Homo sapiens: one gene and its partners. The protein of the gene in region 5 purifies or fractionates together with the protein of the main gene of each other region. This does not show direct contact. Each region holds a gene or a part of one and is shown on either strand. Other genes may lie near its edges.

Region 1 (3,500 bases), on a different chromosome or scaffold from region 5:
CAAATGCTGGGCCATTGTCTGATCCTAAAGTTAGAGGCAGTCGAAATCTAGGAATAATGTCCTTTAGTAAGATTCTGGTTACTTCCCGAGCTTTCTTTGTCCTGGTGGGAAATGCCTCAACCCACCCTGAGAAAGTGCAGACAAACACTAGCATGCACCGGTAGCCTCCGGTTCGAGGCAGCTCAGTAAAGCCCACATGCAGGTTTTCACAGGGTGTAGCTCCAGTTTCTTGAATCCCTGGGGGCCATGTTGGCCCCTGCTGTGGATTGTTTGGGGCACAAGTTAAACATTACTCATAAATGGCTCGAGTGATGGCAGTTAGGCTCAGCAATAGAAATGCCATCCTACAAGAGTCTCTAATGCAGTTTTTCCCATATGTGTTCCTTGATGAAACTGTTTTATGAACCAGGGGCTATTGCTTCTGGGATAGCTGGCGAGCCTCCCATTTGAGAACTTCCACCAACTTCCTTTCTGGTAACTTCCACTTTCCTGCTCAAACCAAGCCTTTTCATTAGAGGAGTAGTTAGGGGGTTCTGTAAGAGGAAGCTCCAATAAGGGCATGGTAAGGGTTTCCTCTTCCTTCTTAGTTATCGCTGTCATTGCAGCTCTTTTGGCTTCTCTTTCTGCCTTTCTGTTTTCTCTGGCCTTGTCATGTCCTCCTGTTTGATGCCCTTTGCAATGGATGACTGCTACTTCTTTTGGAGCCCATACAGCTTCTAAGAGCTGCTCTATTTCCTTTTTATTTTTGATTTCCTTTCCTTCAGTAGTTAACAATCCTCTTTCCTTATATATGGCTCCATGGGCATGCAAAGTGGCAAAGGCATACCTTGAGTCAGTATAGATGTTTACCGACTTTCTTTGGCCAAAAGCAACACCCTAGTGACAGCTATTATCTCAGCTCTTTGGGCTAAAGTTCCGGCCGGCAGAGGGCAGGTTTCAGCTGCTGAATTCAGTGTTACCACTGCATATCCAGCCCAACTGATAAACCTTTAGATATGAAGCTGCTTCCATCAGCAAAGTATTTAACATGTGGGTCTTTTAAGGGCTAGTCCTTTAAGTCTTTTCAGCTTGAGAAAACTTCATCCACAGTTTCCACACAACAGTGATACCCTGGGCCACACAATGGGGGCTTTCCATGCTCCGCCCATTCTATCAGCAGCAGTGTGGCCGGATTTAGAGTATTCATAGTCTCCAAGGTTAGGTAGGGGATTTCACACAAAAGCCCTTGATATCTTAACATTCTAGGGTTAGAAAGCCAGCAATGTCCCCTCTGCTCCATCAGAGTGACAACCGTGTGGGGCACCCAAATTATTACCATTCCTCTGTTGTTGGGACAGTAAGGGTCTTTATCATGGCTTTTCTTTGACCTAGATTTAGAGTCATGTGCCCTTCTGGTATAAAGGAGATTTGTGCTTGCAATTTCTGGAGGAAATCTCTTCCTAACAAGGGCACCGGAAAATTTGGCATTCATTCTTCTAGTGTCCCATCTGCTTGCATCTCACACATTGATCTCCCTTAAGCCTAAGTTGGCCCTCTTGTCCTGGCTTAGCTTCCTGGTTTTACCTAGTTTGTCCTCTATCATGACCGCAACCACGACCACATCCTCTCACAAAACCAGTTTCTCTTCCAACTAAGGCCACCGCCAGCAAGTCTGCCTTTTCCTTAGCTCTGCATCTAGCTTTTCTCTTGGCCTCCTCCTTCTGATTTACAAACACCTTAGTAGCCACCTGGATAAGCTGGGTAATATTCACACCTTCAAACCCTTCTAACTTCCGATGTCTTCTTGCACCTGGCTTACAAATGCCACATTAACCATACACTGATTACCCGCAGCCTCTGGGTCAAGTGGCATGTAAAGCTGGTAAGCCTCGCACAGCCTCTCATAAAATTCACCGGGACTTTTATCTGGCTTCTGGCGAACCTCTGAGACCTTTCCGATATTGGTGGCCTTTTTCTCTCCAGCGTTTATTCCATTTAGGAGTGCCTCTCAATACTGCTGCAAACTTGTAGCCCTTGAGCCTGGTTAGGGTCCCAGCCTGGGTCAGCCTCTATCAGGAGTGCTTGTTGTGTATACTGCCTGATATCTCCTGTGCTTGAAGATGCATTTTTCTCCAGCCACTGGAGAGCAGCTTGTATAACTCTACGGTGCTCTTCCATATTAAATAATGACAGAAAAAAATGTTTACAATCAACCCAGGTAGGATTGTGAGTTAGGAAAATGGACTGCATTAGATCTATAAGAGCCTGAGGCTTCTCTCTATAGGAGGGAGTATGTTGTCTCCAATTTAAGAGATCAGTAGTAGAGAAGGGCTGATAAAAGAAGAGCTGTTCTCCCCCTTGGACTTCATTCTGTGCATTCAAATAAATTTGTCCCCATGTTTCTCAGAGTGGCATCTGCATTGCTTGGGCACGGACCGACCTAAGGCGGCCGACCTCATCACCCTGGAGTTCCTCCCTTGGCTTTTCAGTCAAGGGCTCTGGCTCCTCTCTGCGTGGTGTTGCCTGAGGGGTGCTTCCTTCTGAGTCTGAGTCTCCGGAGGCAGCCGGGGCAGCCTTCTGTCTAAGCTTTGCCAGAGGTGGATAAATTGGTGCATAGTGGGGTGGAATTTCTAACTCTTCAGGCGGGGCCTGTAGGACAGGTTTTTACTGCTTTTCCTGTGACTTTTCTTTTTCTGATGCCTTGCAGTTTCTTTCTATTGTTCCTGGTTTTGTCTTGGCCGTTAGAGTCTTACAGTAGATCTCAAAGTAGGCCTGCAGCCACTTAGGGAGGGTCTGAATTATACTTAGCCAGGAGTCAATATACGGAAACTGATCCAGGTGCCCGGGCTGTTCTCCAAGCCTGGTGACCACCCGAAACACTCGGCCAATTATCTCCCTGTCTATTGTCCCCTTGGCTGGCCACCCTACATTAAAAGATGGCTATTTTATCTCAAAAAAGTTCTCAGTTTCTGTGAAGTTAGCTTAACCCCATAGTCACCATTAAAACTTTTTTTAAAGTTTTTCAGCACGCACTCCAGTGGAATAGGCTTTGACGCTTTTCCTCCTGTTTCCTCCCTTGTGATGCACTTTCACTCTCACTTTCACTCTTGGATCCACCAGACTGGGTCCTATTACAGGAGGTTCGGACACTGCTTAGCCAGGAGCATGCCTTAATTCCTGTCACAGCTAGCTGCAGCTGTGGAGCTGGTCCTCTGGGCCGTATGCAGTGTCCTAGGTCTGGTTTTTCCCACACTCGCCTGGGAGCACACAGTCCACGCTAAGAGATCTGTGCCTCCCCACATCAACCCCGCCTTGGTCTCTCCCGAGACCATCTCTTTTACACACTTTCACACACCTCCCCCATCCCCAAAATGGTTTTCCTTTCTGACCGACTCATGAGCCCCACTTACGTCTGGTGTCAATTAGGGTGTGAGTTTCATCTGAATCAATGGGCCTCTCCCATTGTCCCAACCCCCTCGGGTCAGACTAGTTGTCATGCCCTTGGAGGTGACCAGGCTCCC
Region 2 (3,500 bases), on a different chromosome or scaffold from region 5:
GCAGCACACGCTCACCCCTGACCACAGCTCTGTGGAGTCACCACCATCAGCACCCTCAGGTGTGGCCTGTGCTGTCCAAGGGCTTCTGGGCTATCTCCGTGAGGACAGGGTCCGCTGAGACAGGGGAAACATGCCAGGACCTAGCCTTACACACACACACGCGCGCACATGCACACGCACTACACATTTACACCACAAAGCCAGGACACACATGTACATGTTTATATCTAGAAAACGCCAAGTCAAGTAATCAGTACGTGAAGCGGGCCGAGTACCCGATGGCCTGGCCCGGGGTGAAGGCTGTTTAGTGACCATGGAAGTGTGTGAGATTTCACGCACACGCATTCATGTCAACAAGGACATCAGGAGAAGTTAACATTATACTGAAGTCTTAAGTTAAAACATTTCTGAAGTGTATGGAAAGGTTTCACTAGCTGTTACTTTTCTAAAGTCCCTTGCCCTGTGTTACTTTACCCAGACGCCTCTGCTCTTTATCGTGGATCAAAGTCCCTGGGGCTTTTGTGTGTCCCCGTCAGGCGGCGTCGTGGCCTCAGCAAGTGCCTTGGTGGGCGAGTGTGACGTTCCCCCAGCTGGTCGCGGAGCTGACAGTGTGGGTGGTTGGTGCCATCGCACTCAGCAGACAAGGTGAGTGACCCCAGCCCAGCCCTCCTTGTCCCGGTGCCATCCGGGAGGTGCTGGGAGACCTGTCCTTTCCCTCTGCCCCGGGGCTGCACCTGCACAGCCAGCCCTTGCTGTGGGGAGAATGGAGGCGCCGCTCCTCTGGTGGCCTCCCTGGGCCCCGTCACTGCCCAGTGTGGGGAACCCGGTGCCCGGCATGCGCCGGGGCTCGCTCAACACCCTACAACCGTGCTCACCTGACAGCTCCAAGTTTGGAGATGAGCAGGGAGAGAAGCTCAAGAAAGGATGAAATATCGCCTCAATTGTTTTAAAAAGGGGAGGCTCGCTATCTAAGAATCATGTTTCTGTAAAGAAAAAGTGCTCTTTCCACCCCGGTAGGGAGGTGCTGAGGTGCTGCAGTGTCTGCACTGAGTGCACACACTGTCGCACTTGCAACTGACCAGTGGGTCTTCACAGGTGCGGAGAGGCCAGCTTCTCGGTCTTCACCTCCAGGAGGGCCGGGCTTTTCCTCTCCCTGGTCACGTGGAGCTGGCCAGAGCTCTTCACAAGCAACACCAAGAACCTCTACCAGGGTCCTTTCTGCCACCCATTAGGTGGCATCTCTTTATCCCAAGTAGGATTTGAGGGGACACACTAAAGCACTTTGCTTTTAAAAATTTATCTGGCACTAAAATAATTTAATGCACCACGCCAGCAAATATTTAACCCTGAAATTACTGATACCAACCAATCCCTTTATGGACATATAATTCCACAACACAGGCATAGGCTGAGCCCACTCCAGCTGTGAAGAATGGGCTCCAGTAGGAACGTGGGCTGTGCCTGGGGCGACAGAAGTCCCGCCCAAGATGTGGAGTGGCCCCTACAGGACCCCAGCTAGCTAGGGTGCGGCATGAGGGGTGTGGGTGGGAACACCCTGCACAGCTATGGCAGGAACACCCGCCGAGGCCTGGTGACAGGGACAGAGGGCACTGAGGCACAGGGTCCAGACAGCACCTGCCTTTATGACGAAGCACTTCAGAGGACACTGTGTGATCCACACACCCGCTTTGAGAGAACACCAATCCTCTGGGGACTGCATGGCCACGGAGACACTTCAGTTGGGCATCAGATACTAACCCCTAACTGAAGTCACATCAGCTTCTTCTAAGGGGCTATGAAAGAGCTGGTCACTAACAGAGCACGTGGCCCCTGGAATCACCCTCAACCCTTGACAAAGATGTATTTTAGGCTATTTGTAAATAATCGTTTAAATACAGTACTTTCCAAGGAACGTGCAAACACAAAATAGCTTGCCAAAGATGAATGAACCTATTACAATTTGAGCTGCAGATTTTAAAATAATTATTTCTAGAAATAGTTTTCTATGTCATTATTGTTAAGTCTCCTGGAAATCCATCCCTGTTAGAGAAGTGATCCCTGATGGAGCCACTTCCCGGTGTGTGCTGGCTCCCGAGTCTGTCTAGAGGAAAGAGCAGGGCCGCTGGGAGTGTCACCTCCCTTTCTGGCTGAGCCTTGGGCTTCTGGGCACTGAGTCTTCTCTGACCTGAGGCCAAGATGAGCTGGTTGCAGGCTGTGGGTTTTTCCCTCTCTAAAAAACTCTCCTAAGACAATTTATGCTGTGAATCAGGGGTACTTCTCGTGCCACAGTCCTACGCCCTCAAAGATGAATCCTATTGCTAACCGCTGCGTCTGTGCTCCTAACTCCTGCTCCCAGAGAGCCCTGGGCTGGTCAGGACTCAGCAGGGCATGTCAGTGGGAGGAGGGGTGCAGGTGCAGGTGGGCCTCACCTCCACCCAGAAAGCCGGCGCTTACCTGGTCCCTCAAAGGGCAAGAGTTTGGATGGAACAGGGTCCTGGGCGCTCAGCGGGATCAGGTAGAGGTCCTTGACGTGCCTGTTGTTATTAGCTACAACACCAAAGCGGCCACGGCTGCTGAAATAGGAGTAGAGAGAGATATAGGCGACCTCCTCTTCCTCTGTGGCGGGGTGGAAGCGGATCAGACAGAGCTCCTGCAATGGAAGAGTGGGAAGCACTCATAAAGAAAATGTGGCTCAAGCATCACACGCCCAATTCACATCCTGCTTTCAACAGGAAACCTTGTCAGATCTCTCCGACTCACAGCCACGATCTCACAGAGCTGCTGTCTCAGTGAGGCAATTCACGTGACATGTGAGCCCAGCAGTGTCTGGAGCCGAGCCGGCTCTTCCTACATGCACGACGGCCCCGGTCACGAGGAACCAGCTGCATGATCTGCAATGGCTGTCTGTGCCCCTCCCTAGAGGGGGTTAAACTAGACGACAGGGTCTAGCCCTTTCGTGAACCTGACGAAGACTACAGAGATTCCCCAGAGAAAACCACAGACAGACACGCACAGCTGTAGCTAAATCTCAGGGGGTCCCAGAAAACCAGAACCGTTCAAGAGCCCAGGTTGAGTGCCCTGAGCCTGATCACCCCTGCAAAAGACACCTTCTGCTCCTTCAATCATAAAAAAACAAGAAAATAAAACGTATCTATTTCTTCCTAAAATTTAACCGCACATACATTATAATAAATCAGAAACAAACTTCTACCGCGGCACACTCAGACACCTTCACACAGTCATACAACTATGTAAACTTTTTTTTTTTTTGAGACAGTCTTGCTATGTCTCCCAGGCTGGAGTGCAGTGGTGCGATCTCGGCTCACTGCAAAACTTAATTTTTAACATTCACCTGGAAATATCTAGTAAGCTACAGGCTAACATTTTAAGTGTTAACCCATCCAAACGAGAGGTTAAAAAAAGATGTGTTTAAATCAACACAATTTTCCATGGTTGCAGAATTTATACTATAAGCAGGTACCTTAGACACAGAAGACTTG
Region 3 (3,500 bases), on a different chromosome or scaffold from region 5:
AACTCCTGCTTTAGAAGTTCCTAGGATTATTAGCGTTTATTTTTGACTAGTGTCTATTTGGGGAAATTAGGTACCTACTATGTTTCAGGCACTGGTCTAAAAAGATTGTAAAATTTCCTGTTTCTTTCTGGTCTGGTCATATCTAAGGACTTGTAATTGTCCCTACTTGTTTTGCTTTTCAGTACGGAGCCCCAGATGCAGGTGGACTAGAACACGTTCCTCTGGGTTGGAGTTACTGGTATGCCTTGGTGAGTGATTATTGAAGTCTGTGACAATTTTATGCAGCCCTACAGATGCAGAATATGTTTAATTTAGCTCTGATATTGACATAACTTTATTTGCTTTTACAATTAGTCATTTTAAAAACCTTAAAATTTATTGACTTGTGGCCAGGTGTAGTGGCTCACGCCTAGAATCCCAACACTTTGGGAGGCAGAGACAGGAGGATCTCTTGAGTTCAGGAGTTCGAGACCAGCCTGGGCAAAATGGCGAGACCCCATTTCAACAAAAAATTTTAAAATTAGCTGGGTGTGGTGGCGTGTGCCTGTAGTCCCAGCTACTCGGGAGGCTGAGGTAAGAAGATCACTTGAGCCCAGGAATTTGAGGCTGCAGTGAGCTGTGATTGTGCCACTGCATTCCAGTCTGGGCAACAAAGAGAGACTCTGTCTCTTTAAAAAAAAAAAAAAAAAAAAAAAAAAAAAAGTCTATTGACTTGTGAGTCACTCCTTTCTGGGATGTTTTTCCTGCATTGTACAAGGTTTAGCAAAGTAGTTTGCTTTTCTACCTGATCTACTTCTGGCTTTTAAACTAGAATGCATAATTGAAACTATGCTTGTCTTTAATAAAACCCTAGTCAAAAAATCCAATTCAGTATTGACTTGAGTAATTATCTTTTTAATGTCTTATCACTGCTCAGAGTAGAGTTTAGCCCAGCACGGATTCAGACTTCCACTTTGTGCACTGACCTCATAACAAATTTGACTTTCCTCTTTTTAATAGGAAAAGAATTCTAAGTATTATAATTACACCCTGTCTATCAATGGGAAGGCACGGAAGCATGGTGAAAACTATAGTGTGGACTACCTGACAGATGTTTTGGTGAGTTGCAGAAGCTTTGTAGCTCTGTCCTTACAGGGTTGGCTCACATTTGATTGAAGACTCTGCCTAGAAAACCTATAATCTTATTCGTTTGTGTTGGGTAATATAAATGCACAGTAACTTGGTCTAACTGCCCAAGAGTATTTCCAGCTGATTACAAACTCCTCAGGGTGTTTTCTTTGTGTATAAGCCAGGCTCAGATCTAATGCTCTTGAAATTCCAGCAACAAATCCCTTTTCCAAAGGTTAATCTCTTCGACTACAGAGATTACTTTGTAGAGGTTTTACTTTGTAAGTGTACCTACTCTTGACCCCGGTTTTACTCACAAGCTACAAGATGTCAGCTTCACAGGCCCCATTATGAGGATGGAGAGATAGGGATACTGGATTTATTTGGGCATTGGGTATTTACATATAAAAATTACTGAAAGCAGGTGAAATTGGGACTTTCCTATTCTGAGGCGTTTCTAATGACAGTCTTCAATAGTATTATATATTCACTCAATAGTTGAGCACCTAGTGTAGCCAGTGTTCAACAGTAAATGAAGCAAAGTCCCTGATTCTGTGGAAGTTAATTTTATTTACACACACAAACACACACAGTCTTACGTGTTGCATCATTAGCTGGTGATCAGTTCGAGAAATAAGTTAGGGTATGAGGTTACTTAGATAACATTTAAGCAGAAACCTGAAGTAGGTGAGAATGAGCTGTGCAGATCAGGGGGAAGAGTGCTACAGAGTCAGGGAATAGTAAGTAGGAGGGCCCTGAGGCAGGAGTATACCTGGCATATTTGAGAAACCACAAGGAAGCTGACAGGACTGGAGTGAAAGGTGGATGGAGGGATTATAGGAGATAGATACAGTCAGTATCTGTTGAGTTAGTGTTGGGAATACATGAAACTACTTCAGAACAATGAAAAACAACATGTATGTAGCATGCTTTCATTTTCATAAAGTATCTCCTGATAAGCAAAGGCAAAACTTAAGTCCATGTATTAAAACCCTAGTGGAATGTATTTGAATCTAATATTATTCACTTAGCTACTTCAGTGCATAATTTATGACATCTACTTTCTACATATTTTCATAAGGTTAAGGTAACTTAATCTACCTTTCCCACTGTTTTAAGTTGACTGTCTTTTTACATTCTTTAAGGCATCACATGTAGATACCATAATCTCCATTAGTGTAAGTTAATAGTAAAATATCCAAGTTACTGTTTCCTTCTTTGTGGGAGACATGATTTCTAGGTCATAAAAAGTCATCAAGATCTTAATTGCCTTCTTATGTTGGTATGCTTCTCAGTTTTTAAAGTATTGCCTAAAAAACAAATATATTTGTTCCAACAATATGCTTGCAAATGGCTATGACATAAGATCATGTGCTAAGATTGCTTAAAAGCTAGTAAGACCCTGTACTGTCTGCTCACCAGAAGACATTTATCTATTAAATACTCATCTGTTGGGTAAGGTAGGAGATGACAAATCTTTTTATGTGTCAGGCTAATGTCTCCTTGGACTTTCTGGACTACAAGTCCAACTTTGAGCCCTTCTTCATGATGATCGCCACTCCAGCGCCTCATTCGCCTTGGACAGCTGCACCTCAGTACCAGAAGGCTTTCCAGAATGTCTTTGCACCAAGAAACAAGAACTTCAACATCCATGGAACGGTAGCTTCCCCCACCACTTGTATTCAGCCATACTAAGTATCATTAACTATATGGTATACTTGTCAGGAAGCCTTTGAGCCATGTAGTGGGTTTTTCTTCACAATATTTTAAAGGTAATTGCATCTGTCCCTAGTACAACCAATAGTATAAACTTGCATTGCAAGTACAGATAAAGTTCCTGCTACACATCCAGTGAGCAGCTGGAGAGTTGACAGGGAATGGTAAAGAATGCCATCTTTCCCAATTTACAGGAATATCACTCAGGCTCTCCTGGTAACCTCTGTGCTGACTCTCCTCCCTCCTGGCATAGCCGGGACTGCACCAGCCTCCTGGTGGCCCTCACTAGCCTTTGAGGCATGGGAAGAAGGGGTGGCACAGAGCAATATGGTTGGAAAGGGAAGTTGAATGGAAAAATGAACGAGGTGACATGATTAAGAACCACAACAACCCATGTATTTGCCTCACGTGCCAATTACTTATACTTCCCTTGGCTTGGTGTATAGACAGTTCCCTGGTTCAAAGACAGAAGGCCTGCATTGCCTCAGGTTTGTTATCCAGAAATTGTAATTGCTTGTAAGGTTATAGAAAGAATGAGTCATAAAGTCAAACTCAGTACTACCACTTTCTAGCTCAGTACAGACTATGAGCACGATGCTTAACTTCATTTTTTCATGTGAAGTGGGAGTTCTTGATCCCTCATGGAACTACTGTATGAATTCAAGTACATAGAAACA
Region 4 (3,500 bases), on a different chromosome or scaffold from region 5:
CGGGAAGCAGGGGTTGCAGCGAGCAGAGATCATGCCACTGCACACCAGACCGGGTGACAGTGCGAGACTCAGTCTCAAAAAAAAAAAAAAGCTGATAAATGAGTGGAGGAACAAACAAGACCTCAAAGTAACAATTTACTTGGGTATTAAAATCAGATGTTACTGATGTCTCATTCTCCTTAATCTGGCATTTTAGGGCAGCAAAACCAGTCTGTGTGGAGTCAGTGGTTTCTAAATAGAATTATTCTATAAACTCAAGAGCTGTGGACCCATCACCCGGAACTCAAATGAGACTTGGACAGACAGGAGGTCACTCTTGGCCAGGAAAAAGCACAAAGTTGGGCGGCAGAAGTAAAATGGGCAGACACAAAGCTGTTTACCTACTCACTTTCAACAACTTTTCCTAATTCAGCTTTATGCTCATGACACAAATTACCACAGTTCACTGGCAAGAGAAACCAATTTTCCCATTTTACAAATGAAGCTGCTTTGTATCAATGTCAAACTTCTTAAATTTGATGACTTTATCAAGGTGACAGAAGAGAACATCTTGAAGGATTCAGAGGTGAAAGGCTGTGGTGCCTGCTATTTACCCTCAAATGGTTCCCCACGCACACGAAACAATGATAGGAATAACAATGTGTGTGTGAGAGGCAGAACACATGTGTCAAAATGCTAACAACTGACACATCTGAGTAAAGGACAGATCAGTGTTTGTTGAACGTTACTGTTACTTTTCTGCAAGTCTGAAATTTAAGTAAAAAAAAGAAAAAATAAAAACTACTTAATAGAAAAGGTTATTCCACCTTTACCACCATTTAAAGGTATCAGATGGGGAGAAATAAAAGCAATACTTTGATGGAGATACCTAATACCTTTGAATAAAGCAATTCAGAACAATTCTAAAATTACCATAAGTATCTTCATTTTAGAATAACTGCAAAGATTCATCCGTATGGTATCTGGGGATAAATCATTCTCCCCAACAAACAGTGAACATCTGTTATATAAAAACCTTGTAAGAGGCTAGATAACAACACAATGGCATAGCAAAGTCTCAAACTGGCAATTTCCAAACTACTCAAGGCAGCAGTTTTCCTAGATGTGGAGCCAAGACACCAAGACAGAAAATATTAAGAGGTAAATGACAGCTGGAAAAACACCAGCTACACGATACACACAACCTGTTCGAATTTCTGGACCTATGCAATTTGACCCAGAAGCAATAATGTAAATGTTAGAACTTGAAAATCCCAATTCTTCTAAATATAATTTTATCACTATTTTTTGCAGTCATTAAAAAAAAAAAAATTATCAGCCACCTGTAATCCCAGCACTTTGGGAGGCTGGAGCAGGCAGATCACCTGAGCCCAGGAGTTCGAGACCAACCTGGGCAACATGGCAAAATCCCATCTCTACAAAAAATACAAAAATTAGATGGGTGTGGCAGAATATGGCTGTAGTCACAGCTACTCAGGAGGCTGCGGTGGGTGGATCACCTGAGCCCGGGGAAGTCGAGGTGGCAGTGAGCTGTGATTGCACCACTGTACTCCAGCCTGTGCAGCAGAGTGAGAGCCTGTCAAAAAATCTCCTAATCTAGCAGCTAGAGCTAAAACATAAATGCAAAAAGCTGGTTAGCAAATGAGGAAGAGAGGGGGCAAAAAAATAACTACTATTTACAGGCCAGGCATTGGAGCACATGCTTTATATACGTTATTTCCAACCATTACAACTTGGTGTGGTAGGTATTACCAATACCACTTCACAGGTAAGGAAATTGAGGTTCAGATAGAAATCAAATACCCCAATCCCTCAGAGATTAAGTAGTAAAGAAGGACCACAATCACTCCTCTAGGTCAAAATGTACCTGCCAAGTTTCAATGTAAGGCTTCTACTCTAGAATTCTACTCAAATCTCACCTTCTTCATAAGACCTGTCCTGACATTTTTTTTTTTTTTTTTTTTAAACAGACAGGGTCTCACTCTGTTGCCCAAGATGTAGTACAATGGCTTGATCACAGCTCATTGCAACCTCAAACTCCTGGGCTCATACAATGCTTCTGCCTCAGGCTCCCAAGCAACTGGGACTACAGGCACACACCACCACACTCAGCTTATATATATATGTGGCACAGACCGGGTCTTGCTATGTTGCCTAGGCTGGTCTTAAACTCCTGGCCTCAAGCAACCCTCCCACCTCAGGCTCCTAAAGCACTAGATTACAGGCATGAGCCACCGTGCCTGGCCCTGATCTTTCTATTTAACACTGCCATCTGCCTCCACCCCAGCCCCTGCCCACAACTCCCAAGTCCCCTTATCATGTGTGAATTTAATTTTTTGTTTTATGATCATTGCAAATTCATATGCAGATGTAAAAAATAGAGCATTTCCATATGAAGTTGACTCAGTTTCTCTCAAAGATAGTATCTTGTGTAACTATAGTACAATATCATCTGTATTACTTTTTTTCTTAGTATCACTTTCTAATACAGGCTGAGTAGCCCTTATCCAAAATGCCAGGGACCAGAAGTGTTTCAGATTTCAGGTTTTGGAATATCTACATTATAACTCACCCAATTCAGCATCCCTAATCCAAAAATCCAGAATCAAAAATGCTCCAATGAGGCTGGGCAGAGTGGCTCATGCCTATAATCCATCCAAGCATTTTGGGAGGCCGAGGTGGGCAGATTACTTGAAGTCAGGAGTTTGACACCAGCCTGGCCAACATGGTGAAACCCCATCTCTACTAAAACTACAAAAAATTAGCCGGGCATGGTGGCGTGTGCCTATCACTCCAGCTACTTGGGAGGCTGAGGCAGAAGAATCACTTGAACCCGGGAGACAGAGGTTGCAGTGAGCCGAGATCATGCCACTGCACTCCAGCCTGGGCAACAGAGCAAAACTCCATCTCAAAAAAGAAAAAAATAATAAAAATAAAAATGTTACAATGAGTATCATGTTAGCACTCAAAAACTTTAGGATTTTGGAGCTTTTCAGATTTCAGACTATAAAAATATATTCATAATACACAGGTTGTATAACCTGTGTATATTTATATATATTTATAATACCTGTGTATTAATTTAGAATACCTGTGTATTATAAATATACTTCTCACAGTTGTTTATTGTCTATTTACCCTCACTAAAATACAAAATCCTCGAGAGCAGGAATCACTATCAGAATTGTGTTGACTGCTATATAGCAAGCACCTAGAACACGGCCTAATCTATAGTAGGAACTCAGTATATATTTGCTGAATGAATCAAAGCATTGTATTGCACCTCCTCTTCTAAGAGAAAACAGACCAGCTCTTCAAGAGACCATCGTGGTAAGTAAGAGTACTCTTAAACATCAGGAAAACGTTACACTCACCCATGGTGACATAAGGCAACTTATCAGTTGATCCATGAGGATAGATGCTGTAGAGGTGAGGTCCAGTAACATCTACTCCCCCTAAAACTAGGGCTGCACCAATGTAACCTTGATACCTGGTGATCA
Region 5 (3,500 bases):
CTGGTAATGAAACTTAATGTGATCAATAATCAAAATAGAGTAAAAATGACTATCTTGAGATACTACTGAAAATTATTCAAAAATATGTCTTATAGTATATACTAGTAGTAGTTAAGTTGATTTAGGAAAATTGTCAATTGATAATTTTAAAAGGTTAAAATCTATAATTAATGTTTTTCCCATAGATAGAAACAGGTCAAGATTGTTAAGGCCATGACTTAACTCTGGTTCTTTTTCTTTTTCTTTTTTTGGAGACAGCGTTTGTCACTTTGTTACCCAGGCTGGAGTGCAGTGACTCACTGCAATTTTGATCTCCCCGGCTCAAGCAATCCTCCCGCCTCAGTCCCCCAAGTAGCTGGGACTACAAGCGCGGGTCACCACACCCAGCTAATTTTTGTATATTTTGTAGAGAGAGGGGTTTGCCATGTTGCCTGTGCTGGTCTCAAACTCCTGAACTCAAGCAGTCAACTTGCCGTGGCCTCTCAAAGTGCTGGGATTACAGGTGTGATTCATTTTTTTTTTTTTTTTTTTTTTTTTTCATTTTTTTTCATTTTTTGAGATGGAGTCTTGCTGTGTCGTCCAGACTGGGGTGCAGTGGTGCGATCTTGGCTCACTGCAACCTCTGCCTCCAGGGTTCAAGCAATTCTCCTGCCTCAGCCTCCCTAGTAGTTGGGATTACAAGTATGCGCCACCACGCCTGGCTAATTTTTGTATTTTTAGTAGAGATGGGGTTTCACAATGTTGACCAGGCTGGTCTCAAACTCCTGACCTCAGGCAGTCCTCCTGCCTGGCCTCCCAAAGTCCTGGGGTTACAGGCATGAGCCATTGGGCCTGGCCTACCCTGATTCTTAAGAAAGCATTTTCTTTCTTTCATATTATAAAGTAGTTATGTGTAGGTTTATTTAGTTAGGAATTCCAGCTGTTCAGAGATGGCAAAACAAAAAAAAAAAGCAAGATCCAGTACCATGGCTCATGCCTGCAATCCCAACACTGTAAGAGGCTAAGGCAGGCGGATCACTTGAGGCCAGGAGTTCGAGACCAGCCTGGGCAATATGGCAAAACCCTCATCTCTACTAAACAAAAATTAGCCGGGTATGCCTGTAATCCCACCTACTCAGGAGGTGGAGGTTGCAGTGAGTCAGGATCGTGCCACTGCACTCCAGCCTTGGGCAACAGAGCAAGGCTCTCAAAATAAAAAAGCAGCGGCTGCATTTTATGCCTTTCAAATGCTGCAGGAAATAGAAATGGCTTAAGTTCAGTAAGAGAATTGACAATTCAGTGTTTTTGAGAAGTGGCAATGAAAGGGAGGAAAATGTTTATTGATTTTAGCCTGTTTCCCCAAAAGGATAAGAAACTATTTGGAAGTGAAAAAGAAGGGCCTCTTATTTTCTGTTGGTTCAGATTTCAAAGGTGTGAAAACTATTCTTTTTCCCTTACTGTGACATTAAATCACTTCAGGCTTGTACCATTTTGTATGGCCTGTTGTTAAGTTGGACATGACAATTTGTAAAATGTGAGGATCTTTTCCTTTCTTGTAAGTTAGAAGAAATAACCTCTTCAGTTAAACCTTCAGTGAAGGTTCTTTTAGTTTTCTGTTCTGCTTTCTAAAAACATAGACTCTGTTCTTTAGAGCAACTTATGACTCTCATCTCTGCTGCACGAGAATATGAGATAGAGTTCATCTATGCGATCTCACCTGGATTGGATATCACTTTTTCTAACCCCAAGGAAGTATCCACATTGAAACGTAAATTGGACCAGGTAACTCCTTACTTTTTATTCATTTTTCCTGACTATGTACTTGAAACTAGAAGTTTACTCAGTTGCTTTTACGATGTTAAAAGGAAATCAAATTCCTATTTCTTTGTTTTCTTTTTTTGTTTGTTTGTTTTGTTTTTTGAGACAGAGTCTTGCTCTGTCGCCCAGACTGGAGTGCAGTGGCACAATCTCGGCTCACTGCAACCTCCTCCGCCTCCCGGGTTCAAGTGATTCTCCTGCCTCAGCTTCCCGAGTAGCTGGGACTATAGGTGCGTGCCATCATGCCTGGCTAATTTTTGTATTTTTAGTAGAGACAGGGCCTTCACCATGCCAGCCAGGCTGGTCTCGAACTGCTCACCTCATGATCTTCCCAAAGTGCTGGGATTACAGGTGTGAGTCACCATGCCTGGTTTTTTATTTCTTTGTTTCTATAAGAATTTTTTTTACTTTGAATGCTTTTTTTTTCTTTTTTTTTTTTTTTGAGACAGAGTCTTGCCCTGTTGCCTGGAGTGCAGTGGCCCAATCTCGGCTCACTGCAACCTCCACCTCCCAAGTTCAAGCGATTCTCATGCCTCAGCCTCCTGAGTAGCTGTTACAGGCACACCACCATGCCTGGCTAATTTTTATATTTTTAGTAGAGACAGGGTTTTGCCACGTTGGCCAGGCTGGTCTCGAACTCCTGACTTTAGGTGATTCACCCACTTCAGCCTCCCAGAGTGCCGGGATTACAGTCGTGCGCCAGTGCACCCAGCCTTGAATCCTTCTGATAGAGGAATATTTTCCAAATTAAGTAAAAAGAGCTTTACTGGAGGTACTAGTTCTTCTCAAATTTCAGTTTGCATAAGAACTGCCTTAAAAGAATGATTAGAAGTGAAGCTTGGAAGAATGCTGACTGCTGGACTTTATTTCCCAAATGGATAAGGTGGGGACCGGGAATCTAGGTGATTGGTGGTCAAGAACCACATTTTGAGAAATTATATATACCCTAGGCTGCTTGGCTTGAATTTACACCTGAGATTACAGAAACAGGGTTTTACCTATTAGACATTAGTTTCTTCAATTATATGGACGAAGAGATGTCTGGAAATGGCTAGTTTCCCAAGATGAGAAGAAAAACAGACTAGGTGAACCTAATTGAGTGTAAAGTCTGCTTAATGTAAAAGCTGCAGACTTCCTTTGGTCCAATGTAGGGGGCTTCCATTTTCCTTTTTTTTTTTGAAACTGAGTCTTGCTCTGTCGCCCAGGCTGGAGTGCAGTGGCGCGATCTCAGCTCATTGCAACCTCTACCTCCTGGGTTCAAGCAATTCTCTGGCCTCAGCCTCCTGAGTAACGGGGATTACAGGCATGTGCTACCACACCTGGCTAATTTTTTTGTATTTTTAGTAGAGATGGGGTTTCACCATGTTTGCCAGGCTGGTCTCGAACTCCTAACCTCATGGTTTGCCCGCCTCGGCCTCCCAAAGTGCTGGGATTACAAGTGTGAGCCACTGCGCCCGGCCCCATTTTTCTGTTATTTTAGTTTGCTGGTTTTTCTATATACATGTCTTATTTCTTTAGGCAAAGATTTATATGGGTGGCATTAAAATGTCTGGTAAAAAATTTAAGGCAGTTGAAATTTTCATGAATGAAGTTATTTTACTATTTGATAAAATTCTATTCTTTCTGATTCATACCTGGTTAGGTTTATCTGCAAAGGGATCAGTGTGCCTTTTGGGACTAGGACACAGCCTGGCTTTTTCATG
Region 6 (3,500 bases), on a different chromosome or scaffold from region 5:
TTCAATTTAGCACTCAAACAACTGCCAGTAGAATGTAAGACCTCTAATGATATCAAAGATAATTTGATTCAGGCCAGGCGTGGTGGCTCACACCTGTAATCCCAGAACTCTGGGAGGCCAAGACGGGCAGATCACCCGAGGTCAGGAGTTTGAGACCAGCCTGGCCAACATGGTGAAACTCTGTCTCTCCTGAAAATACAAAAAAATTAGCCAGGCATGGTGGCATACGCCTGTAGTCCCAGCTACTCAGGAGGCTGAGGCAGGAGACTCGCTTGAACCCAGGAGGGAGAGGTTGCAGTGAGCCGAAACTGTGCCACCACACTCCAGCCTGGGTGGCAGAGCGAAACTCAAGTCTTCCAAAAAAACCCCAAAAAAACAACAAAAAAAAACTGATTCAAAATTTAAAACATTTCAAGTACTTTTCTTCAGGTTCTGTGATATAAGAGACTTCCAAATTCATGAAGAAATTTAGTCAATTTGTGGCCAAAAAACCAACCAAACTCATAGCACAGATAACTACTCTTCTAAATATGAACCAGTTTTATCAACATGGTTGTAAGAACTAAACAAATACTATTTTTTGGCACTCAATTCAGTTATGGGAAAACTTTTGGCTGGGCATGGTGGCTCACATCTGTAATCCCAAACACTTTGGAGGCCAAGGCAGGTGGATCACCTGAGATCAGGAGTTCAAGACCAGCCTGACCAACATGGCAACATGGCAAAACCCTGTCTCTACAAAAAAAAAAAAATACAAAAATTAGCCGTGCCTGGTGGCACACGCCTGTAGTCCCAGCTACTAGGGAGGCTGAGGCATGAGAATTGATTGAACCTGGGAGGTGGAGGCTGCAGTGAGCTGAGATCACACTGCTGCACTCCAGCCTGGGCGACACAGTGAGACTCCGTCTCAAAAAAAGAAAAAAAAAAAAAAAAAGAAAACTTTTTAAGTATGCTTAGAACAACTTTAATATGTAACCCAACTTTTTCTAATACAAACATTATGAAGTCTGATTTATTATCAATGAAAATGTAAAACCTGAATTGAGGGGTGCCACATGTGTAAAATACCCTTTGGAGTTTGAATGCTATTAAAAAAAGAAGCAAAATAAATTATTAACAAATATTGAGGCCAGGTGCAGTGGCTCACGCCTGTAATCTCAGCACTTTGGGAGGCCAAGGTGGGTGGATCACGAGGTCAGGAGTTCGAGGCCAGCCTTGCCAACATGGTGAAAGCCCGTCTTTACTAAAATTATAAAAATTAGCCGAGTGTGGTGGCAGGTTCCTCTAATCCCAGTTACTCGGGAGGCTCAGGCAGGAGAATGGCTTAAACCTGGGAGGTGGAGGTTGCAGTGAGCCGAGATTGTGCCAGTGCACTCCAGTCTGGGTGACAAGAGCACGACTCCATCTCAAAAAGAACAAAAAAACAAAAAAAAATATTGATTACACATGTCAATATTTCAACCAATATGCCATTAATATCTGAATTTATTTCATGTTTCCTTTTACTTTCTAAAATGTGACTACTAGAACATTCTAAGTTTCATATGTGCCATTATATTTCTATTACACAGTGCTGATTTAAGTCACTTTAATAAAAATCAACAAAGTATCACATCATAGGTTTTCAAATACAAACTAACTACCGTCTCCTCACCTAGATCACTTTCCTCACTTGATGGTTCGTCTGCCTTTAAGTCTTCCTCCACCTTCTTACTATCAGGTTTTTCTTCCTAGCAAAGGGAAGACAAACAGTACTATCAGTATTTAATAACATACCGAATATTTATACTAATTTCTACAAATCTATGTATAAACTGTCAAATATGGCCAGGCATGGCGGCTCATGCCTGGAATTCCAGCACTTTGGGAGGCTGGGGTGGGTGGATCATTTGAGGTTAGGAGTTCAAGACTAGCCTGGCCAACACGGTGAAACCATCTCTACTAAAAATACAAATTAGCCGGACGTGGTGGTGCCCGCTTGTAATCCCAGCCACTTGGGAGGCTGAGGCAGGACAATCACTTGAACCTGGGAGGCGGAGGTGGCAGTGAGCTGAGATCATGCCACTGCACTCCAGCCTGGGCGACAGAGCAAGACTGTGTCTCAAAAATAAAAAAACAACTGTTCAAAATAAAGTTTGAACATTGACAATAAACAGTTTAGAGATTATAAATAGCCTCATGTCCACTCACATTATATTTTATTGCCAAATTTAGTAAAAATCTTTACAAGGGTTTTTGAGTTTTGGAACTGCAAATAAGAACCTGTGGAATTACAATAATAAACAATGAAAATTCAAAGAATTTAAAAGTGCACGACATATAGAAAGCAACACTTTCTTCCCATCCTATAAATAACCAGTGTGGTTTCTTGTATATCCCATTGCAGGATAGTCTCTCTATATATGAAACAACTCTATCCTTTGCCTTTTGCATTTAACAACGCTGTGTATCTTGTAAATTATATACCATTATCAGCCTACCTTCATCTATTCACTCAACCATATATTGTTAACCATTTTTAGGTTGCTTCCCTGTTACTTAAAAAATTAGAACCAAGGCAGGGCGCAGTGGCTCATGCCTGTAATTCCAGCACTTTGGGAGTCCGAGGTGGGTGGATCACGAGGTCAGGAGATTGAGACCATCCTGGCTAACATGGTGAAACCCCTTCTCCACTAAAAACACAAAAAAATTAGCCGGACGTGGTGGTGGGCACCTGTAGTCCCAGCTACTCAGGAAGCTGAGGCAGGAGAAGGGCGTGAACCTGGGAGGCAGAGCTTGCAATGAGCCAAGAGATCGCACCACTGCACTCCAGCCTGGGCAACAGAGTGAGACTCTGTCTCAAAAAAAAAAAAAAAAAAAAAAAAATTAGAACCAAAAACCTACCTTGTCACAAAATATTTGTTGAGTCCCTATAAAATGTGCAAAGTCTAGGTATTCTAGAATATATTGAAAAGAAAAGACAAGCCATAATTCTAGTTTAGAATGTTTTTCTTACAAAAAATTTTCAGCTGACACATAGGTTAAATATAATTTTGCCTTCATACACATTTGCCAAATAGCAAAATATCTAGGGCTCAGAAAATACCACTCTGATAAATGGTCCTTTTAAAAAAAAGGTAACTACTTTTTGGGCTTTTGCTTACCTTTTCGCATTCTCCTTCTTAATAGACATAACTTCCACTTTAAGATCCAAATAGATAACAATGTTTAAGTTTCTAAATAATAAAACAGCTATTTTCTTGTCGATTTAAGACAGCTAATCAGAAAATTTGCAAAAAAAAAAAAAGCCTTTTAGATATGAAGGCAGAAGAGAGAAATAAAAAATTATGAAGAAAGCATTCTGGGCCAGGCATGGTGGCTCACGCCTTAGTCCCAGCACCTTGGGAGGCTGAGAGATCAGTTGAGGTCAGGAGTTCGAGACCCACCTGGCCAACATGGCGAAACCCCATTTCTACTAAAAATAGAAAAATTAGCCAGGCATGGTGGGATGCACCTGTAAT
Region 7 (3,500 bases), on a different chromosome or scaffold from region 5:
CTCGATCTGGCTCACTGCAACCTCCGCCTCCCGGGTTCAAGTGATTCTCCTACCTCAGCTTCCCAAATACCCGGGACTACAGAAGCATACTACCACACGCGGCTAATTTTATATTTTTAGTAGAGACAAGGTTTCACCCATGTTGGCCAGGCTGGTCTCAAACTCCTGACCTCAGGTGATCCGCCCTCCTCAGCCTCCCAAAGTGCTGGGATTACAGACATTAGCCACCAAGCACAGCCTTTTATTTTTTTAAGAAACAAGGTCTCACTATATTGCCCAAGCTAGTTTGAACTCCTGGGCTCAACTGATTCTCCCACCTCAGCCTTCGGAGTAACTGAAACTACAGACACATATGACATCCGCAGGGTTTACAGTACCTATTTTCTCTGGAACAGTGCAAACATCACTCTGATCAGTTTTAGTAGCAGCATAGTGAACTTCAGAGAAGCCTGAACATAAATTTATGTTATGCAACTGAAGTCAGGGAACAATCTATGGTTTAAATGAAGGTAACAGATATTTTAGAACCAAGGAAGTAACTCAGTTCACGTATGCACGTAACTCAGCTTAACATGTTTGCTCCATATCCGTTGCTTTAAGTTCAGATAGCACTTTTCAAATTCAAAAAGCATATATGCAAACTGCTTTCATCTGCCTCCAAAAATTAGTTAAAACTAAAAAAAAATCATAATTCATTTCTGATCCATGAGTATACTAACTAGGAGGCTACAGAGTACAACGCCACAAAGGATGCCTTGGGAGAACGAATGAAGATCATCTCGAAATAGCCTCCATCCTTAAGAGGTAATATTCTCAGGAAACAGGCAACAGGCCGGGTGCAGTGGCTCAAACCTGTAATCCCGACACTTTGGGAGGCCACGGCAGGCAGATGGCTTGAGCCCAGGAATTCGAGACCAGCCTGGGAAACACAGTGAGACCCCCGTCTCTACATAAACTATATTTAAAAAAAAAAAAGTTAAAGGTCATTAGTAACCTCCTAGAAGCAAAATCCATAGAGACTTCTCAGTCCAACCCATCACTGACTTCTTAGCCAATTTGCTACTGATCTCCTCCCTCCTCTTCTCTTGGTTTCCCAGGACCCTCTCCTCTTAGACCCACTCCCCATCTCTACCAGATGGACATCACACCCGACTGGCTCAACGATATGATGCAGTCTCTGGAATCTTTACCTCCAGCCTCAGCCTCTGTCTTGAGCTCCAAAGATGTATCTCTAACTGCCCACTAGTCCACTTGGCTGCCCCACAAGCACTTCAGATTTAACATGTCCAAAAACAAACTCATAATCTCATCCTTCTCCCATTTTCCCTCCTTGGATGAGTGTCACCAGCCAGTGAATCACCCAAATTAGAGATGAGGATCATTCTAGATGCATTCCTTCAACAAACATTTACTAAGTTCCTATTACACGCCAAGCACCGACACTGAATACAAGAGACAAAACTCCCCATCCTTGTGGAGGTTATGAATGTTAAGTGGAGACAAACAATAAAAATTTTAAAATGATTAAAATAATACAGTATTGGCCAGGCACGGTGGCTCAGGCCTGTAATCCCAGCACTTTGGGAGGCTGAGGCAGGTGGATCACTTAAGGTCAAGAGTTCGAGACCAGCCTGGCCAACATGGTGAAATCCTGTCTCTACTAAAAATACAAAAATTAGCTAGGTGTGGTGGCACATGCCTGTAGTCCCAACTACTTGGGAGGCTGAGGCAGGAGAATGGCTTGAACCCGGGAGGCAGAGGATGCAGTGAGCTGAGATCATGCCACTGCACTCCATCCTGGGTGACAGAGCGAGACTCCGTCTCAAAAAGTAATAATAAAAAAAAAATAATAATAATACAGCATTTAAGATAGTGAGGTGTGCTAAGGAGAAAAATCAGGGCAGAGGCTAAGGAGTATGTGGGGAAGTGAAGAAATGCTAATCACTACAAGAATGGGTTTGGTTCAGAACTCCAGATGCACCTGGAAGTGCTTGAGTAGGGCCAGAGCAGGAAGATGAAAAGAGACAGGGTGGGGTGCTCAGAGGACACTGACAAAAGCTTTAACAGAGGAGTGACTCAGGTTTTCACAGGATCATTCTGGGGAGTCCTCCCTGCAGCTCCTCATTTACCCCAATCCAGTCAGCCCCAAATCAGCTCCACTATAACCCTTACAGCCCAGCCCCTGCCCCCACCTAGCTTCTCTGTTCCTTCTGTCACTGCCCTAATCCTGAGGCTTGCCGAGTTGGGGTTAATGGCTTCCTAATTAACCTCATCCCAGTTCACAGCACCTGCCCCACCACTGCCTATGCTCTTTCTAAAGTGGCAACTGGCTCCTCAGAATCTTCCAACCCTCCGGCCAGGCGCGGTGGCTCACGCCTGTAATCCCAGCACTTTGAGAGGCCAAGGCGGGCGGATCACGAGGTCAGGAGATGGAGACCATCCTGGCTAACGTGGTGAAACCCCGACTCTACTAAAAATACAAAAAATTAGCCGGATGTGGTGGCACGCACCTGTAGTCCCAGCTACTCGGGAGGCTGAGGCAGGAGAATCACTTGAACCTGGGAGGTAGAGGCTGCAGTGAGCAGAGGTCGTGCCACTGCGTTCCAGCCTGGGTGACAGAGCAAGACTCCATCTCAAAAAAAAAAAAAATCTTCCAACCCTCCTTTGTAAACCTCAGAATGAAAGCAGACTTCTAAGAAGTCATTCAAGGCCTTTCCTAACCTCGTCTTTCCACACTCACTCCCATGTCCCCTTCCCAACATGCCCCTTTACAGCAGCACAACCTCAGGATTTATTTCCTCCAAGCAGGAACCCCAATCCCAATCCCACCCCTGACCCCCTGACACTGGCTGATTGGTACTTTTCTTTTGTGAAGAATCGCCTCCTCAGTGCACTCCACAGCCTTTAACCTGGTCTGTGGTACCTGCCCATGCCAGCCTGTGAGCTCCTAGAGGACAGAGTTTTTTTGTTTTTTGGTTTTATTTTTTTTGAGGCAGAGTTTTGCTCTTGTTGCCCAGGCTGGAGTGCAATGGCGTGATCTCGGCTCACTGCAACCTCTGCCTCCCCAGTTCAAGCGATTCTCCAGCCTCAGCCTTCTGAGTAGCTGCGATTAGAGGCACCCGCCACCACACCCGGTTTTGGTTTTTTTTGTATTTTTAGTAGAGACAGGGTTTCACCATGTTGTCCAGGCGGGTCTCAAACTCCTGACCTCAGGTGATCGGTCCATCTTGGCCTCCCAAAGTGCTGGGATTACAGGAGTGAGCCACTGCACGGCTGACAGCGGCTCTTTTTGTTTGTTTTGAGACGGAGTCTGGCTGGACTGCAGTGACGTGATCTCGGCTCACTACAACCTCCACTTCCCGGTTCAAGCGATTCTCCTTCCTCAGCCTCATGAGTAGCTGGAATTACAGGTGTGCACCACCACACCTGGCTAATTTTTGTATTTTTGGTAGGGACGGGGTTTCACCATGTTGGCCAGGCTGGTCTTAAACTCCTGACCT

Evidence for each region.
Region 1: the proteins of OGA (region 5) and IL22RA2 purify together in Homo sapiens (co-immunoprecipitation; one large-scale study listed by IntAct). This does not show direct contact.
Region 2: the proteins of OGA (region 5) and DIDO1 fractionate together in Homo sapiens (co-fractionation; one large-scale study listed by BioGRID). This does not show direct contact.
Region 3: the proteins of OGA (region 5) and GNS fractionate together in Homo sapiens (co-fractionation; one large-scale study listed by BioGRID). This does not show direct contact.
Region 4: the proteins of OGA (region 5) and PSMB7 fractionate together in Homo sapiens (co-fractionation; one large-scale study listed by BioGRID). This does not show direct contact.
Region 6: the proteins of OGA (region 5) and ST13 fractionate together in Homo sapiens (co-fractionation; one large-scale study listed by BioGRID). This does not show direct contact.
Region 7: the proteins of OGA (region 5) and KLC1 fractionate together in Homo sapiens (co-fractionation; one large-scale study listed by BioGRID). This does not show direct contact.

What each region holds. Positions count from the first base shown.
Region 1 is NC_000006.12:137,163,645-137,167,144, reverse strand, and holds part of IL22RA2 (interleukin-22 receptor subunit alpha-2 isoform 1 precursor), read left to right. Parts: intron 1-3,500. UniProt on the Homo sapiens protein: Isoform 2 is a receptor for IL22. Binds to IL22, prevents interaction with the functional IL-22R complex and blocks the activity of IL22 (in vitro). May play an important role as an IL22 antagonist in the regulation of inflammatory responses.
Region 2 is NC_000020.11:62,888,506-62,892,005, forward strand, and holds part of DIDO1 (death-inducer obliterator 1), read right to left. Parts: coding exon 3,482-3,500; intron 2,651-3,481; coding exon 2,455-2,650; coding exon of another isoform or gene 2,426-2,454; exon of another isoform or gene 1-2,425. UniProt on the Homo sapiens protein: Putative transcription factor, weakly pro-apoptotic when overexpressed. Tumor suppressor. Required for early embryonic stem cell development.
Region 3 is NC_000012.12:64,742,407-64,745,906, reverse strand, and holds part of GNS (N-acetylglucosamine-6-sulfatase precursor), read left to right. Parts: intron 1-182; coding exon 183-248; intron 249-999; coding exon 1,000-1,098; intron 1,099-2,598; coding exon 2,599-2,766; intron 2,767-3,500. UniProt on the Homo sapiens protein: Hydrolyzes 6-sulfate groups in N-acetyl-d-glucosaminide units of heparin sulfate and keratan sulfate.
Region 4 is NC_000009.12:124,401,943-124,405,442, forward strand, and holds part of PSMB7 (proteasome subunit beta type-7 precursor), read right to left. Parts: intron 3,491-3,500; coding exon 3,375-3,490; intron 1-3,374. UniProt on the Homo sapiens protein: Component of the 20S core proteasome complex involved in the proteolytic degradation of most intracellular proteins. This complex plays numerous essential roles within the cell by associating with different regulatory particles.
Region 5 is NC_000010.11:101,808,445-101,811,944, reverse strand, and holds part of OGA (protein O-GlcNAcase), read left to right. Parts: intron 1-1,630; coding exon 1,631-1,761; intron 1,762-3,500.
Region 6 is NC_000022.11:40,846,640-40,850,139, forward strand, and holds part of ST13 (hsc70-interacting protein), read right to left. Parts: intron 1,731-3,500; coding exon 1,655-1,730; intron 1-1,654. UniProt on the Homo sapiens protein: One HIP oligomer binds the ATPase domains of at least two HSC70 molecules dependent on activation of the HSC70 ATPase by HSP40. Stabilizes the ADP state of HSC70 that has a high affinity for substrate protein.
Region 7 is NC_000014.9:103,632,211-103,635,710, reverse strand, and holds part of KLC1 (kinesin light chain 1), read right to left. Parts: intron 1-3,500. UniProt on the Homo sapiens protein: Kinesin is a microtubule-associated force-producing protein that may play a role in organelle transport. The light chain may function in coupling of cargo to the heavy chain or in the modulation of its ATPase activity.